2 linked regions of the Homo sapiens genome follow. The protein of the gene in region 2 interacts with the protein of the main gene of each other region in a pairwise test. Each region holds a gene or a part of one and is shown on either strand. Other genes may lie near its edges.

Region 1 (6,191 bases), on a different chromosome or scaffold from region 2:
GGTGGCTCACGCCTGTAGTCCCAGCACTTTGGGAGGCCGAAGTGGGTGGATCACTTGAGGTCAGGAGTTTGAGACCAGCCTGGCCAACATATGGAAACCCCATCTCTACTAAAAATGCAAAATTAGCGAGATGTGGTGGCTACTTGGGAGGCTGAGGCAGGAGAATCGCTTGAACCTGGGCAGTGGAGGTTGCAGTGAACCGAGATCATGCCATTGCACTCCAGCCTGGGCAACAACAAAACTCCATCTCAAAAAAAAAAAAAAAAAATAGAAAGAAAAATTATTACATGGAAACTGCCAAAGCCTTCAGGTCCAATGTTAAGATTTTTCTCAAGAATTTTCCATAACACTCCTATACCTTTAAAAAACTGAGCTAGGCATTTATTAAGAGGATCATTATTCACAACATATTTTTGCATTTAAAAATTACTCCCACTACGGTGTTTATGTATATAAGCCTCAATGTGTACTATTGTTGGAACCCTGCAAATGGTGGGGAGCATGACTAGTGAATTTACAACTTAATTTACAACAAAAATAAAGAATATTTTTCTTTATTAATTCTTGTTCTTTTTTGGAGTAGCCTCCCAAGCAGCTGGGACTACAGGCGTGTGCCACCATGCCTGGCTGATTTTTTTATTTTTAGTAGAGACAGGGTTTCACCATGTTGGCCAGGCTGGTCTTGAACTCCTGACCTTAAATGATCTGCCTGCCTTGGCCTCCCAAAGTGCTGGGATCATAGGCATAAGCCACTGCACCTGGCCTTTATTAGTTAATTCTGATTCTTGTAAATGTTCAAATATCTAATTAGGTCCAATTGTAATTATTAATAATGAGTAAAATAATTCTAGTTTCTATACATCAGGTTAAAAAACTAATCTGGACGTATTACCTTTTCCAATACTCACATATTGGGCTACAAAATGACTTGATATATAGTAACTCTACATTTGTTTTCTTCATCATTAGAAACACATCTAACATTTATGTATTTCTTTATGTAGATCACTTCAAAAGGGATCTCAAACACTTTTCTAAAAATATAGATAATTGGGATTACTGAACAGTAATAGGAAAATTGCCTTTTAATCAGCGTTTTACTAATGGCCTTTCCATTTCCAAGAAAAAAATCCAGACATGTATGGGTTTACTAATGTCCCTTAAAAGAAAGAAAGTGAAATAATTCCAAAATATGTCCAAACAAATCTGCTTTATGTGTCTGGAAATAAAAGAATACCCATTTAAATATAATAGTTTCAAATTTTTGTACATAATTTTGTCTATACAGACCTTAAGATCATATAACATTCCAACAATCAAAACTTTTAAAAATATATGAAACACAGACAGTATCTGGTTATAAAAGATTTTAATATCAAATAAAATGTACATGATCAAAAGGCTTTGATTGCCATGTAAAGCATAGTTTCCAGGTTACATCAAGTGATTTTATCTTCTCCCATTTCAAATGAAATGTTGAAAGCACAAACAATCTGCCATGAATGATAAGAAGCAAAGGCAGCACATATCATCTGCAAGTTTCTTCCCAAGCTATAAAATATCATGTTCATATTTTTCCTGTTTGTGATCCCAAAACAGGCAATATTTTCATTTCATCCACTCTATTCTTATGTATTTGAAAAGCAGGTGTTATCCACCTACCACAAGAGCACTGTTCACCATACCAGTTGAAGGAACCCAACTTGGCACTGCATTTTGGGCAAAGAAGCTGAAATAAAGCAAATGTGTTACTTTATTCATTCACTTTTATACAAAACAAATCATTATCTTTGGCAATCAATATAGGATATAAAAACAAGACACGATCCCCACGTTGAGTTTATAATCTAATCAGTGAGATAAAATGCATTGGAAATTTACTGTAATAGATAGTAGACTACAATTATCTCATAGGAAGAATGTTGTATTCAGGGAGCTTGAAGGGAGAAAAGTGAAGCTTGAGATTTGATTAAGGAAGGTTTCATGGATGTGGCATATATATATATATATATATATATATATATATATATAGCTTTTAAATCAGTTTGTAATTTAGGACTTCAAATGAAAATGATCACGGCTAAAGTATAGAAAAGCATGTTAGGATTTTCATGCTGTATTACTAACTGTGTGTATTGACAGCATATAAGTCAGATTCTTAGCTATTTAAAGACAAACTGATATTCCAGGAAAATAGGTAAATCAAAAAAGCCTAATAAGGCAACTGCATTTTCTTCTAATGTAGTTAGTTATAGCATTAATTTTTATGTTTAGCTCTTTGATTTATGCATGGTATAAGGTAAGAGTTTTTATTTTTAATCTTGAGCTATAGAAAACTAGACATAAAACTCAGAAGCAGGCTGAGTGTGGTGGCTCATACCTGTAATTCCCAGCACTTTGGGAGGCCAAGGCGGGCAGATCACCTGAGGTCAGGAGTTTGAGACCAGCCTGGTCAACATGGTGAAACCCCGTCTCTACTAAAAACACAAAAATTAGTTGGGCATGGTGGCGGATGCCTGTAATCACAGCTACCTGGGAGGCTGAAGCAGGAGAATATTTGAACCCAGAAGGCGGAGGTTGCAGTGAGCCAAGATCACACCACTGCACTCCAGCCTGGGCAACAGAGCAAGACTCCGTCTCAAAAAAAAGAAATTCAGAAGCCATAAATAAAAAAACTAACAAATTTTATTATGTAAATATCCTTCATTTTAATATGACAAAACATAAAAAATCTGATAAGCAATAGACTGAAGAAAATAGTTGCAATATATTAGATGAACTATTAACATCTAGAATATATAGAGGTCCTACAAATGAGTAAGAAAGAGACAAAACCCATAGGCAAATGGGCCTAGGAATATGAAAGCAATTTATAGAAAAGAAAACAGTAAATGGCTGGTAAATATATAAAGATGGTGGTTGATGACTATTTTCATAAAATTCCAATTAAACATTTTAGGATTAACATTTTTTACCCCACAGACTGACAAAATGTTACCAGTTTTATAGTATCTATTATGTCAAGGATATGGAGTAACGGGTACATGCATTCAGTTACTGAAAACCAAATTTGTATGGGCATTTTGAATATCAGCCTGGAATATCACTAATATTTAAAATACATTCTTCGAGCCAGGAATTCCACTTCTAGGTACATATTCTACAGAAAAAAATCAAATATGTATACAAATAAGTATGCACAGGATTTAGAATCTTACATAAAAATGTATTTAACTTGGCTGGAGTGTGTGTGTGTGTTTCCCAGGTTAAGTAAAATTAGAAAGCCAGAATCACAAGCCACAAAAAAGAAAAACTGATAAATTAGATACCATCAAAATTAAAATCTCTAACTGCTACAAATAATACCATCAAGAATGGGAATTGCAGCTGGGCATGGTGGCTCACGCCTGTAATCCCAGCACTTTGGGAGGCTGAGGCAGGTGGATTACCTGAGGTCAGGAGTTCGAGACCAGCCTGACCAACATGGAAAAACCCCGTCTCTACTAAAAATACAAAATTAGCCAGGCGTGGTGGCGCATCCCTGTAATCCCAGCTACTCAGGAGGCTGAAGCAGGAGAATCACTTGAACCCGGGAGGCAGAGGTTGTGGTGAGCCAAGATTGTGCCATTGTACTCCAGCCTGGGCAACAAGAGTGAAACTCCGTCTCAAAAAAAAAGAATGGGAAGAGTGGGAATGTGAATTGTGATGTGATACGGTTTGGTTCTGTGTCCCCATCCAAATCTCATCTCAAATTGTAATCCCCAAGTGTGGAAGAAGAGAGGTGATTGGATCATGGAGGCAGATACCCCCATGCTGTTCTCGTGATAGTGAATGAGCACTCATAAGATCTGATGGTTTTATAAGTGTTTGACAGTTCCTCCTTCACATATGCTTCTCTCTCCTGCCGCCTTGTGAAGAAGTGGCCTGCTTTCCCTTCTGCCATGATAATAAGTTTCCTGAGGCCTCCCCAACCATGCAGAACCATGAGTCAATTAAACCTCCTTCCTTTATAAATTACCCAGTCTCACGTACTATCTTTATGGCAGTGTGAAAATAGACTAATACACGATGGTTGCAAAAACCACTGTGAATACACTTTAAAAGCCACTGAACTATACACCTTAAATAGGTAAATTGCATGTTATGTGAATTATACTATAATAAGGCTGTTTTTTTTAAAAAAAGCAGCATTATCCGAAAATGTGAGTTTGATTATATGGTACCACTTTCTAGGCAAGACACTACTCATAAACAGTTTCCTCATGCACAACACGTGAATATAACTGCTCTACCTATTTTATAAAGCTATGGCATTCTTCAAATGGTATAATACAGTGAAAGGGTTTCATAAACTAGCCACTATACAAACTTTTATACAAACCATACAAACTTTCAAAATCATTATTAAGATGATTATTATAGAATACCTTCACATTAATATCAAGTAAACCTAAAGGAGAAATGTGGCTGTCATGGCACACTCCAACCAAGTTAAACACTTTTTTATGTAAAATGTCACATGAACTGCATTCTTTTTTTATTTCCCTACCCACTGGTTACAGGAGCAATAGGATGAGCTGCATTATTTAACTGGAAATGAAAAAGAATCTCATAGCAAAACAAACTAAATTTCACTCTCCTAAAAGATAAGAAAAAAGAGAAAGACACATACAGGAAGCCAACAGAGAAAAAGAAAGACAGAATTTTTAACCTAATTTTAAAATCCCTGATTTACCCTATCTTGTTACAAAGTTCAAATTTTGTTTAATACATTTTTTCTTTTCTTTTTTTCTTATTAAAAATTTTTTACTTTCTTTTATAGAGATGAGGTCTCACTATATTGCCCAAGCTGGTCTCGAAACCCTGGGCTCAAGTGATCCTCCCGCCTCAGCCTCCCAAAGTGCTCAGATTACAGGCATGAGCTAATGAGGCAAGAGTGCCCAGCCAATATATTCTAATTAGTTTAAAAATAAATGTTAGTCTTATATTTGAAAAAAATATAAATAGCCTTAAAGGAAATTTATTAACTTAGACCAGGGCTCTCAACCAGAAGTAGTTCACTATGTTGGATCAGCTGGTTTTTGAAAAATATTTTATTTTTGATAGTCTTATCTACACTAGAAAGATATAATCTTCAGAAATAAAGAAATTAAGAAATGGAGCAAAACACTAGTTAAAATAGAGCTTAAAATGCAAGAAGGAATAAAATATAGATCATAAAATAAAATTGTAGAAAATAAAATGTGTTCTCACCTGTCCATCCATCACTCCCAACAAAGCAGATTCCATCCACTGTACAGGTTCAATGAAATAAGATGTACATTGAGCTTGCCTCCCTGTGGTAAGCATGGAAGATGGTGTCATTCTCTTGTGGGCAAAGGCTATAGGTCCACTTCCTTCACGGTGATCCAGAATACTAGAACTTCGAAATAATGATCGCCTGCAACCCCCAAACAAACAAAAGCATTAATGACTTCCAAAAGGATGAAAACATGGATGAAATGTGCGGTATTTCTTTTTTTTTTGAGACAGAGTCTCACTCTGTCGCCCATGCTAGAGTGCAGTGGCGTGATCATGGCTCACTGCAACCTCCGCCTCCTGGGTTCAACCAATTCTCCTGCCTCAGCCTCCTGAGTAGCTGGGATTACAGGCACCAGCCACCATGCCCAACTAATTTTTGTATTTTTAATAGAGACGGGGTTTCACCATGTTGGCCAGGCTGGTCTCAAATTCCCAATCTCAGGTGATCTGCCTGCCTCGGCCTCCCAAAGTGCTGGGGTTACAGGCGTGAGCCACTGCGCCCAGCAAAATGTGCAATATTGCTTAGAGAACAAAATAATGTAACATTGATTACACTACTTAAATTTTCAATAACCCTTACAATCTGATTATTTCTCTTTTTAAGAATTTATATTCTTTCTGAAAACAGATCTGAACTAAAAATTTCAATTAAACAAAATCTTCCTACAGAAATTTAAGAAAATAAAACATTAAGTACTTTTCAGCTACTGAGACAAGATAAAATATCCAAAGGATATAAAATAGTTTACCTGCACTTTCTACACTTGTAGAGAACCTCATCTTTCAATCCTTGTGAAACGGTAGTTGGGTCAACAGCAAAGAGTTCTTGAGGTAAATTCTGCAATTCTATATGACATAATTAAAATGTATTTATTTGTCAAAATCAACTC
Region 2 (8,995 bases):
GGATGGGAGTTTGGACACACCTTATTATACCCCTCCTGCTTTGGCAGTTTAAACACAACCAACCAGCAAAAAGGTTAAAATCAACATCGTAAGACTGACAGAACAGACTCTGTGGCAAACAAGACCAAGGGCCACCTGAGGTGAGGGTTAAGTCACACACCGCCTACACTTAAAGAATAAACTACAGTTCCAACTGCCAAAGCATTTCTTTTTCTCCAGCAGCTAAATGTCCTTTTAGGTTATTCACTAGAGACCTCTGCAGAAACTCGTTTTTGAGATTCAAGAAGTAAATAAAGGATGTTTTTCTTTTTCTCTATTGCTTATCTTGGCCTCAAGCTCGCGCACGCAAGAAGACTCTCTCTCTCTCTCTCTCTCTATATATATATATATACTTTTTTTTTTTTTTTGAGACAGGGCCTTCCTCTGTTGCTCAGGCTGGTGAGCAGTGGTGCAATCTCAGCTCACAGTAATCTCCGACTCCCAGCTTCAAGCATTTCTCCTGCCTCAGCCTCCTGAGTAGCTGAGACTTCAGGTGCGCCACCACGCCTGGCTAATTTGTGTATTTTTAGCAGAGATGGGGTTTCGCCATGTTGCCCAGGCTGGTCTCGAACTCCTGAACTCAAGTGATCTGCCTGCCTCCAACTCCCAAATGCTGGAATCACAGGCGTGAGTCACCATGCCTGACCAATATAAACAATATTAAAACACCTGCAGCTTCCTGTCAGATCCTGATGAACAGACCCCTCTGTTCCACCAGCCGTAACTACAGCTTTGACTGGGAAAAGACTGATTCCAGGCCAGGTGTGGTGGCTCACGCCTGTCATCCCAGCACTTTGAGAGGCTGAGGCGGGTGGATCACCTGAGGTCAGGAGTTTGAGACCAGTCTAGCCAACAAGGTGAAAGCCTGCCTCTACTAAAAATACAAAAATTAGCCGGGGGTGGTGGTGTGCGCCTGTAATCACAGCTACTCGGGAGGCTGAGGGAGGAGAATCGCTTGAACCCGGGAGGCGGAGGTTGCAGTGAGCTGAGATTGCACCATTGCATCTCAGCCTGGGTGAGAGTGAGAATCTGTCTCAAAAAAAAAAAAAAAAAAAAAAAACTGATTGCAATCACTTTATCCTGGTAACTACTCACCACGGACTGGTTCTGGCCGGTTGACAGAGGCTGCAGAGTTGCTTCACCTTTTGACCTAGGGGGCCTAACCATAATGCATTTAAATGTTAAGTCTCCGCTCCAAGGTGAACTCGGGAGTAGGTAACATGCATGTTTGTTCAATACCCATGCGTCAGGACACCCTTGGTGAATATCCATAGCTCTTCCTATAACTTCTTGAATATATACACTTGGCCAACCCACTCAGCATAAATTCCCGTCTCATCTTTTCTTCCCTCCAAGTGCTTGTTTTTAGTTTTCTTTTTTTTTTTTTTTTTTTTTTTTTTGAGATGGAGTCTTGCTCTGGTGCCCAGGCTGGAGTGCAGCCTCTGCCTCCTGGGTTCCAGTGATTCTCCTGCCTCAGCCTCCCGGGTAGCTGAGATTACAGGTACATTAGCCAGAGGCTGCGCTTCTCACCTGCGGTGTATAATCACCTTCTATGAAATAAATGGCGTTTCTTCTAAGAAATACAGTGGGATTTTGGGAGGCCGAAGCGGGAGGATTGCTTGGACCCAGGAATTCCAGAGCACTCTAGGTAACATAGCAAGACCTCGTCTCTGCAAAAATAAATAAATAAATAAATAAACAAAAATTAGCCTGGCGTGATGGTGCACGCCTGTAATCCCAGCTACTGGGGAGGCTGAGGCAGGAAGTCCAACTGTGTTTGCGCCACTGCACTCCAGCCTAGGAGACAGAGCAAGACCCTGTCTCCAAAGAATTGTAAAATAAATAAAAAACGGACCAGGCGCAGTGACTCACGTCTGAAATCCCAGCACTTTGGGAGGCCAAGGCGGGAGGATCACTTGAGGTCAGGAGTTCGAGACCAGCCTGGCCCACATGGGGGAAACCCAGTCTCTACTAAAAATACAACATCAGCCAGGCGTGGTGGCACGTGCCTGTAAGTCCCAGCTCCTCGGGAGCCTGAGGCAGGAGAATCGCTTGAACCTGGGAGGCAGAGGTTGCAGTGAGCCAAGATCGCGCCATCGTACTCCAGCCTGGGCAACAGAGCAAAACTCTGTCTCAAAATTAAAACAAATTAAAATAATAAAATAAAATAAAATAGGAAGCCTTTCTACCTTTATAAATTGTGTGATTTTTAGGTTAACAACTGTCAATGACGGAATGTTCAGTACGTGGGACTTTCTTGTCTGTATGTGTGTGGTGGGGGGGGTCGGGGCGGGGAACAGACTCAATATGAAACCGTTTTGGGGTCTGACGCTCGCCCACCAGCCTCCATCGCGCAGCCACACGCCCACTATGCGACCAGAGCCACCTGCGCAGTTGTTAGCAGAAGGAAGAGTAACTTACTACTCTCGTCCCTGCGGATCTACGGGTGCCTCGAACGTGGGGCGCGTTCCTGGGGCTGGAGGCGGCGCCCAGGGGCAGCGCAGGGCCCGGCCCGGGGGTTCCCGGGGGTTCGAGCCCGCTGGGCCGGGGGGCGGCGAGCGGGGCTGTGGGCCAGGCCCCGGGCTGCTCCCCGTCCCCCGGGGTCGGCTGGTCCCGCCCGGGCGCCTTGATCCGGCGCAGGCAGTCCTGCAGCATCCGCTGCGTGCTGGCCTCGCTGAGCCAGTACAGGAACAGCTCGTCCACCTTCATCTTCAGGACCGGCTGCAGCACTTTGCCGGGCGGCATGGCGGGGGCTGGGCCCGCGGCGCCCCCGGACGCCCGCGCCCCGCCCCGCCCCGGGGGCTTCGGTCCGCCCCGGACCGACCTCGGTGATGCGAGCACGGCCCGCTGAGGGGGCGCGGCGCAGGGAACAGGGCCCGCGCCTCGGGAACTGCGCGGACTCGCGGGGCGCGGGGACCGAGGAGGGGGCGCGGTCCGGCCCGCGCTGCTCAGGGCAGCTTCAAAACGGGCGCGCCGGCCGCGCTCCCAAACAAGGGCGCCCGCGTTCACGTCACTGCGTCGCGTCATCGCGACGATGTCATCACGAGGCGACGCCGCCGCTAGCCACGCGCGCCCCGCGGCCCTCGGAGCTTTTGCAGGAGGCTTTGGTGGGGCCGAGCGGCTGCGGTGAGGACGAGGGAGGGGCTGTGGCGGCCGTACCGCCCGAGCTCTTTCTGCGTTTAGGATTTTTAGAGGCGCGGCCCATGGCGGCGTGGCAGTCCTAGAGCTGCGGAAATGCGAGCATGCGCAATGCGTGCCTGCCAGAGCGAGGAGAGGGTGGAACCTCCGCATGGAGCATGCGCCGTGCATAGCGGTGGAGGAGCGGAGTTCGGGAGGCCGGTCGGGTGAGCGTGCGCAATGGCTGCCCGCGGGGCGCAAGCCAGAGGCTGGGAGGTGTGTGAGCGGGTGGGGCTGGAGGACGGGAGTGCGCCTGCGCAGTGGGAGGCACCGGGAACGAGCGAGCATGCGGGGTGCGCGCCCGCCGAGCTCGGGAGCGAGCGTGCGTCCTACGGGAGCGCGCGAGGAAAAGATCAAACTTTTCAATAACAGCGGGCTACCTGGGACCCAAAGGGCCCCGTTTACTTTAGCTTTGCTTATCAAACAGTAGAGACAGGTTGGAGGAGTTGGACCCCTTTAAACGTTGGTGTTCAGGGATGAGCGTGAAGTGCGTTGAAAATTGCAAAAATCATCCACGTCCAGGGAGGTGACATTAGTTAAATAACTTTACCCAATGGTCGTTTTTGTTTCTGCTTTTAACAGTATCCATAAAAACACTGCATTATCATCTGTCTGGCACACATGCACCTGTTTCCTTTACATCTTGCCCCGCTTTTTATTCATTTTTTATCAAAATAGGGTTTCACCTGGTGTTGCACCCTGTTAGAGAGTAATTTCAAGGTCTTTTATGAGCCAGGTTCTCCTACTTCTGAGCTGCATAAATCGAGCCAGACTCAATAAGTAACCCTTGGCCGGGCGCGGTGGCTCAAGTCTGTAATCCCGGCACTTTGGGAGGCTGAAGCGGGCAGATCACGAAGTCAGGAGTTCGAGACCAGCCTGGCCAGCATAGTGAAACCGCCCCCACCATCTCTACTAAAAATAGAAAAATTAGCCGGGCATAGTAGCGTGTGCCTGTAGTCCCAGCTACTCGGGAGGCTGTGGCGGGAGAATTGCTTGAACCCAGGAGGTGGAGGTTGCAGTGAGCTGAGATCACACCATTGCACTCCAGCCTGGGCGACAGAGCCAGACTTTGTCTCAAAAAAAAAAAAAATAACTCTTTTTTTAGTTTTATTTTTTTTTTGAGTTGGAGTCTCGCTCTGTCGCCCAGGCTGGAGTGCGATGGCAAGATCTCAGCTCACTGTAACCTCCGCCTCCCGGGTTCAAGGGATCCTCCTGCCTCAGCCTCCCGAGTAGCTGGGATTACAGGCGCCCGCCACCACGCCTGGCTAATTTTTGTATTTTTGGTAGAGACAGGGTTTCACCGTATTAGCCAGGATGGTCTCGAACTCCTGACCTCAAGTGATCCACCCGCCTCGGCCTCCCAAAGTGCTGGGATTACAGGCGTGAGCTACCACGCCCGGCCTAAATAACTCTTTTTGTTCGTATGAGACAGGGTTTTGCTCCGTCACCCAGGCTGCGATCTTAGCTGAGTGCAGCCTTGATCTCCTGGCTCAAGCGATCCTCCCACCTCAGCCTTCCAAGCAGCTGGGACAACAGGCATGCGCCACCATGCCTGGCTCATTTTTAATTTTATTGTTTATAGAGACGAGGTGTTGCTGGTCTCACACTCCTGGCCTCAAGCAATCTTCCTGCCTTTGCCTCTGTCTCTGCCTCCCAAAGCGTTGGGATTACAGGCGTGAGCCACCGCACCCGATTTAAATCACTCATAAACGATAGTTTTGTGTTGTGTACATAATGATTTGAATTTCAGTTTGTGTTTCGTGATTGGATATAAAAATCCGAGTGTACTTGGTCAGAAGAGCGCCATCACGCAGGAATTCTGTGAAGTTATTTTTCCTAATTGGGAAGCAACCGTTTGTGTGTGTGTGCGATGCTGTGATTTCTGGAGGGAAGTGAATATATTAATACAGTTCTCTGTTTGAGTATGTATCGGACACAGACGTCTTTTCAAGGAACAAACGTGCTTTTCATTCTGGGTGTTTCGATGAGCTGCGAGTCACTGTTGGAAGCATCACTGCAGTTTTGAGGGGAAAGGGTTTCCTTTGAATGCCTGCACAAGAGGCCTTTCTCTGCCAGGTTACTGGGGCACAGTGTAGTGAGGCCCAGGGCCAACAGGACAGAAATCAACTCAGGGCAGAAACAGAATGCGCCTTCAGTCTGCGCTGGGGCCCGGGGGCCCACTCCGTGCAGGCTTTGCTCTGGGAGAACAAAGAGGTGCTGTCGGGCCCCCAAGGCTGGCAGGGCCTGAGGTGTTGCAGAGTTTGCTGGGATGTGGCCAGCTGCAATTATCCAAGCTGCTCCACAGCCGGATGGACGCCCTGCCCATTCGGGTCTGTCCGTCTTGCAGGGGTGGTGGGTGGCCACCAGAATTGTCCTGGGGAGAGAAAGGTGAGGGCAGGCCGGGAGATTGCAGTGGCTCATGCCTGTCATCCCAGCACTTTGGGAGGCCGAGACGGTGGATCACCTGAGGTCAGGGGTTCAAGACCAGCCTGGCCAACATGGTGAAACCCCCGTCTCTACAAAAATACAAAAATTAGCCAGGCACGGTGGCTCACACCTGTCATCCCAGCACTTTGGGAGGCCGAGGTGGTGGATCACCTGAGGTCAGGAGTTCGAGACCAGCCTGGCCAACATGGTGAAACCCCGTCTCTACAAAAATACAAAAATTAGCCAGGCATGGTGGCTCACACCTGTCATCCCAGCACTTTGGGAGGCCGAGGCAGGAGGATTGTTTAAGCCCAGGAGGTCAAGACCAGCCTTGGCAACATGGCGAGCCCCATCTCTAGAGAATATTTAAAAATTAGCTGAGCATCCTGGCGTGTGCCTGTGGTCCCAGCTACTCGGGAGGCTGAGGTAGGAGGATCGTTTGAGCCTGGGAGGTTGAGGCTTCAGTGAGCCGAGATCTCACCACCGCTCTCCAGCCGAGGCAGGAATGAAAGACTCTGTCCCTAAAAGCATTAAATTTTAAAAAGCAGCCAGATATCGTGGCTCACACCTGTTATCCCAGCACTTTGGGAAGCTGAGGTGGGAGGATCACCTGAGGTCAGGAGTTCGAGACCAGCCTGACCAACATGCTGAAACCCCGTCTCTACAAAAATACAAAAATTAGCCAGACGTGGTGGCTCACACCTGTCATCCCAGCACTTTGGGAAGCTGAGGCAGGCAGATCACCTGAGGTCAGGAGTTCGAGACCAGCCTGGCCAACATGGTGAAACCCCGTCTTTACAAAAATAGAAAAATTAGCTGGGCATGATGGCGGGTGCCTGTAATCCCAGCTACTTGGGAGACTGAGGCAGAAGAATCACTTGAACCCAGGAGACAGACGTTGCAGTGAGCCGAGATCACAGCATTGCACTCCAGCCTGGACAGCAGAGCGAGACTCCCTCTCGAAAAAATAAAAATAAAAATAAAATAAAAAGCGAGAATGGGGAGGGAAGAGTAGCGAGGAAGATTCCGGAAGACTCTGCTCCTCTGTGGGATGTAGGTCCAGGAACAAAGAGCTGGGTCAGCGCTTCCCAGGGAGGTGAGGAAGGAGGGAGCCACAACGGTTGTAGAGGGAGAGAAGCTCCTTCCTTCATCCACCTGAGCCCGGGTCTCCTGTGTGGCCACAGCCTCTGCAGCCTCTGCCCCACCTGCAGCTGCTCAGAAATGCAAACTCACCCACTGTATGACATGCTCTGGATCTCAGTCGGCCTTCGCCCCGCAGACCTGGGTGGTTGATCGAACACTAAAGCTCCAGACCTGGAGATGCCTCAGAGGAAGCACCTGGCAAGTAGGATCTCCCTGGTCCTGCGCCGACCCAAAGCTCCCAGCTAGGTGCGTGCAGTGAGAGGTCAAAGAGGGATCAAGTTTATATCTGCCGCTTGCATTCCGCACGATGACTTAAAACAAACAAACAAAACAAACAAACAAAAAAAAACAAAAAACCCAGCCGAGCACAGTGTCATCCCAGCACTTTGGGAGGCCGACAGGGGTGGATCACGAGGTCAAGAGATCGAAACCAGCCTGGCCAACGTGGTGAAACCCCGTCTCTACTAAAAATACAAATATTAGCTGGGCGTGGTGGCGGGCACCTGTAACCCTAGCAACTCGGGAGGCTGAGGCAGGAGAATCACTTGAACCCGGGAGGCGGAGCTTGCAGTGAACAGAGATCATGCCCCTGTACTCCAGCCTGGCGACAGAGCGAGACTCTGTCTCAAAATGAATAAATAAATAGGAAAGTAGTGTGGGTCTGCATTCTGCAGGTTTTGGAAACACATTTCCGAGTGCATATTTCAGGTGAGGAGAGGTGGGGACTCCAGGCAGCGTGCACAGTTTAGACTCTAACCGTGGGCCGGGAGTGGTGGCTCACTCCTATAATCCCAGCACTTTGGGAGGCCGAGGTGGGCGGATCACAAGGTCAGGAGTTCGAGACCAGCCTGGCCAATATGGTGAAGCCCCATCTGTACTAAAAATCCAAAAATTAGCCAGATGTGGTGGCGTGCACCTGTCATCCCAGCTACTGGGGAGGCTGAGGCAGGAGAATCGCTTGAACCCGGTGGAGGCGGAGGTTGCAGTGAGCCGAGATCGCGCTGCTGTACTCCAGCCTGGGTGACAGAGCGAGACTCCCTCCCAAAAAAAGAAACCACCGTAACTGTGGCAGTAAGAGGCCAGGAACTCTCACAGATACCTCGTCCAAAACCGGCAAAGGAGAGGATGGAACATTTGCTGTAGAGGTTTTCCTGCCTCTTCATAACTCCTTGAGGCTGTGTCCTCATCCATCTTCCAGAAACCAAAAACCCTTCACACATCGCCCCTTTTGTCCCGAGCGGCGCCCGCTGCCACCTGCTTGGCAAAATAAAACGTAAGTGGAAAAATGCTCCCTTTTCCATTTTCCTCTCTAATTGAATTCTCTCCTGACCTCTCGGTTCCCCACGGCTGTGTTTCAGGTTTTGATGATAAGGAAAAGAACTCTGTATTTGGATAATACGATTTTCAGCAACCTTCAACTCAATTTCCTCTCCCCGGAGACAGTGTATCTTATAGGATAGAATGAAATCCCTTATTCATAGGGAAAAAGTTCCAATTTAATCTGAATATTCAGCGTGCCGCCGTGGCCGGGGTGATGGATGGCGTATGGAAATATCACAGTTCAAGCAATCAGATGTCAGAATGCACTCTGCTACTGGAAGAAATAATGACGCCTATCCAATTTTCTATAAGGCGCAGAAATGCACGTTGCATCGTGAGGACCCCGGCTTTCTCCTATTACCTTACTAATCACATCTCCATTTAAACACAGAACAGAAAAGGAAGCGTGGTCACAAATTAAGAATTAATGGAAGTGAGACTCCGCAATGGATTCGGGGCCGAGGGCCAAAGGCGGCCGCCACGTGCCGCTATTTACATGAAGTCACAGAGATGACGGGGATGAGCGGGGTCCCCTTGTCAGAAGCTGCTGGGCCAGATGAACCTGACAAGTATCTCCTAAGAAGGATTTAGAAAAGGGGAAGATGAAATCTTTGGAGGTAATGGAGAATTAGAAGCATGTCATTACCTATAAATCCTGCGGCCCTGCACACGCTGTTGACAGCCCGGAAGATGAGACTGGCTGAGAGGAAAAAGATTCTGAGCCTGGAACAAGCGGACCCAGATTCTAGGTGGCCAGGCTGTGTGGTTGCTTTTATCATTCCGGGAGACTTTCGGGAGGAAATGTTTGCAAAGAGCACGCAGATGGGGAAATGTTTGCAAAGAGCACGCAGATGGCATTTTCTTTTCTCTCTATTTTTTTTTTTTTGAG

The links. The genes of interacting proteins can lie anywhere in the genome.
Region 1: the proteins of PPP2R3B (region 2) and DUSP12 interact in binary tests that used the Homo sapiens proteins (3 or more experiments, as listed by UniProt).

What each region holds. Positions count from the first base shown.
Region 1 is NC_000001.11:161,752,324-161,758,514, reverse strand, and holds the end of DUSP12 (dual specificity protein phosphatase 12), read right to left. Parts: intron 6,148-6,191; coding exon 6,051-6,147; intron 5,441-6,050; coding exon 5,254-5,440; intron 1,730-5,253; coding exon 1,568-1,729; 3' UTR 1,277-1,567; downstream 1-1,276. UniProt on the Homo sapiens protein: Dual specificity phosphatase; can dephosphorylate both phosphotyrosine and phosphoserine or phosphothreonine residues. Can dephosphorylate glucokinase (in vitro).
Region 2 is NC_000023.11:383,908-392,902, forward strand, and holds the start of PPP2R3B (serine/threonine-protein phosphatase 2A regulatory subunit B'' subunit beta), read right to left. Parts: upstream 3,001-8,995; 5' UTR 2,785-3,000; coding exon 2,461-2,784; intron 1,199-2,460; exon of another isoform or gene 1,135-1,198; intron 1-1,134. UniProt on the Homo sapiens protein: The B regulatory subunit might modulate substrate selectivity and catalytic activity, and might also direct the localization of the catalytic enzyme to a particular subcellular compartment.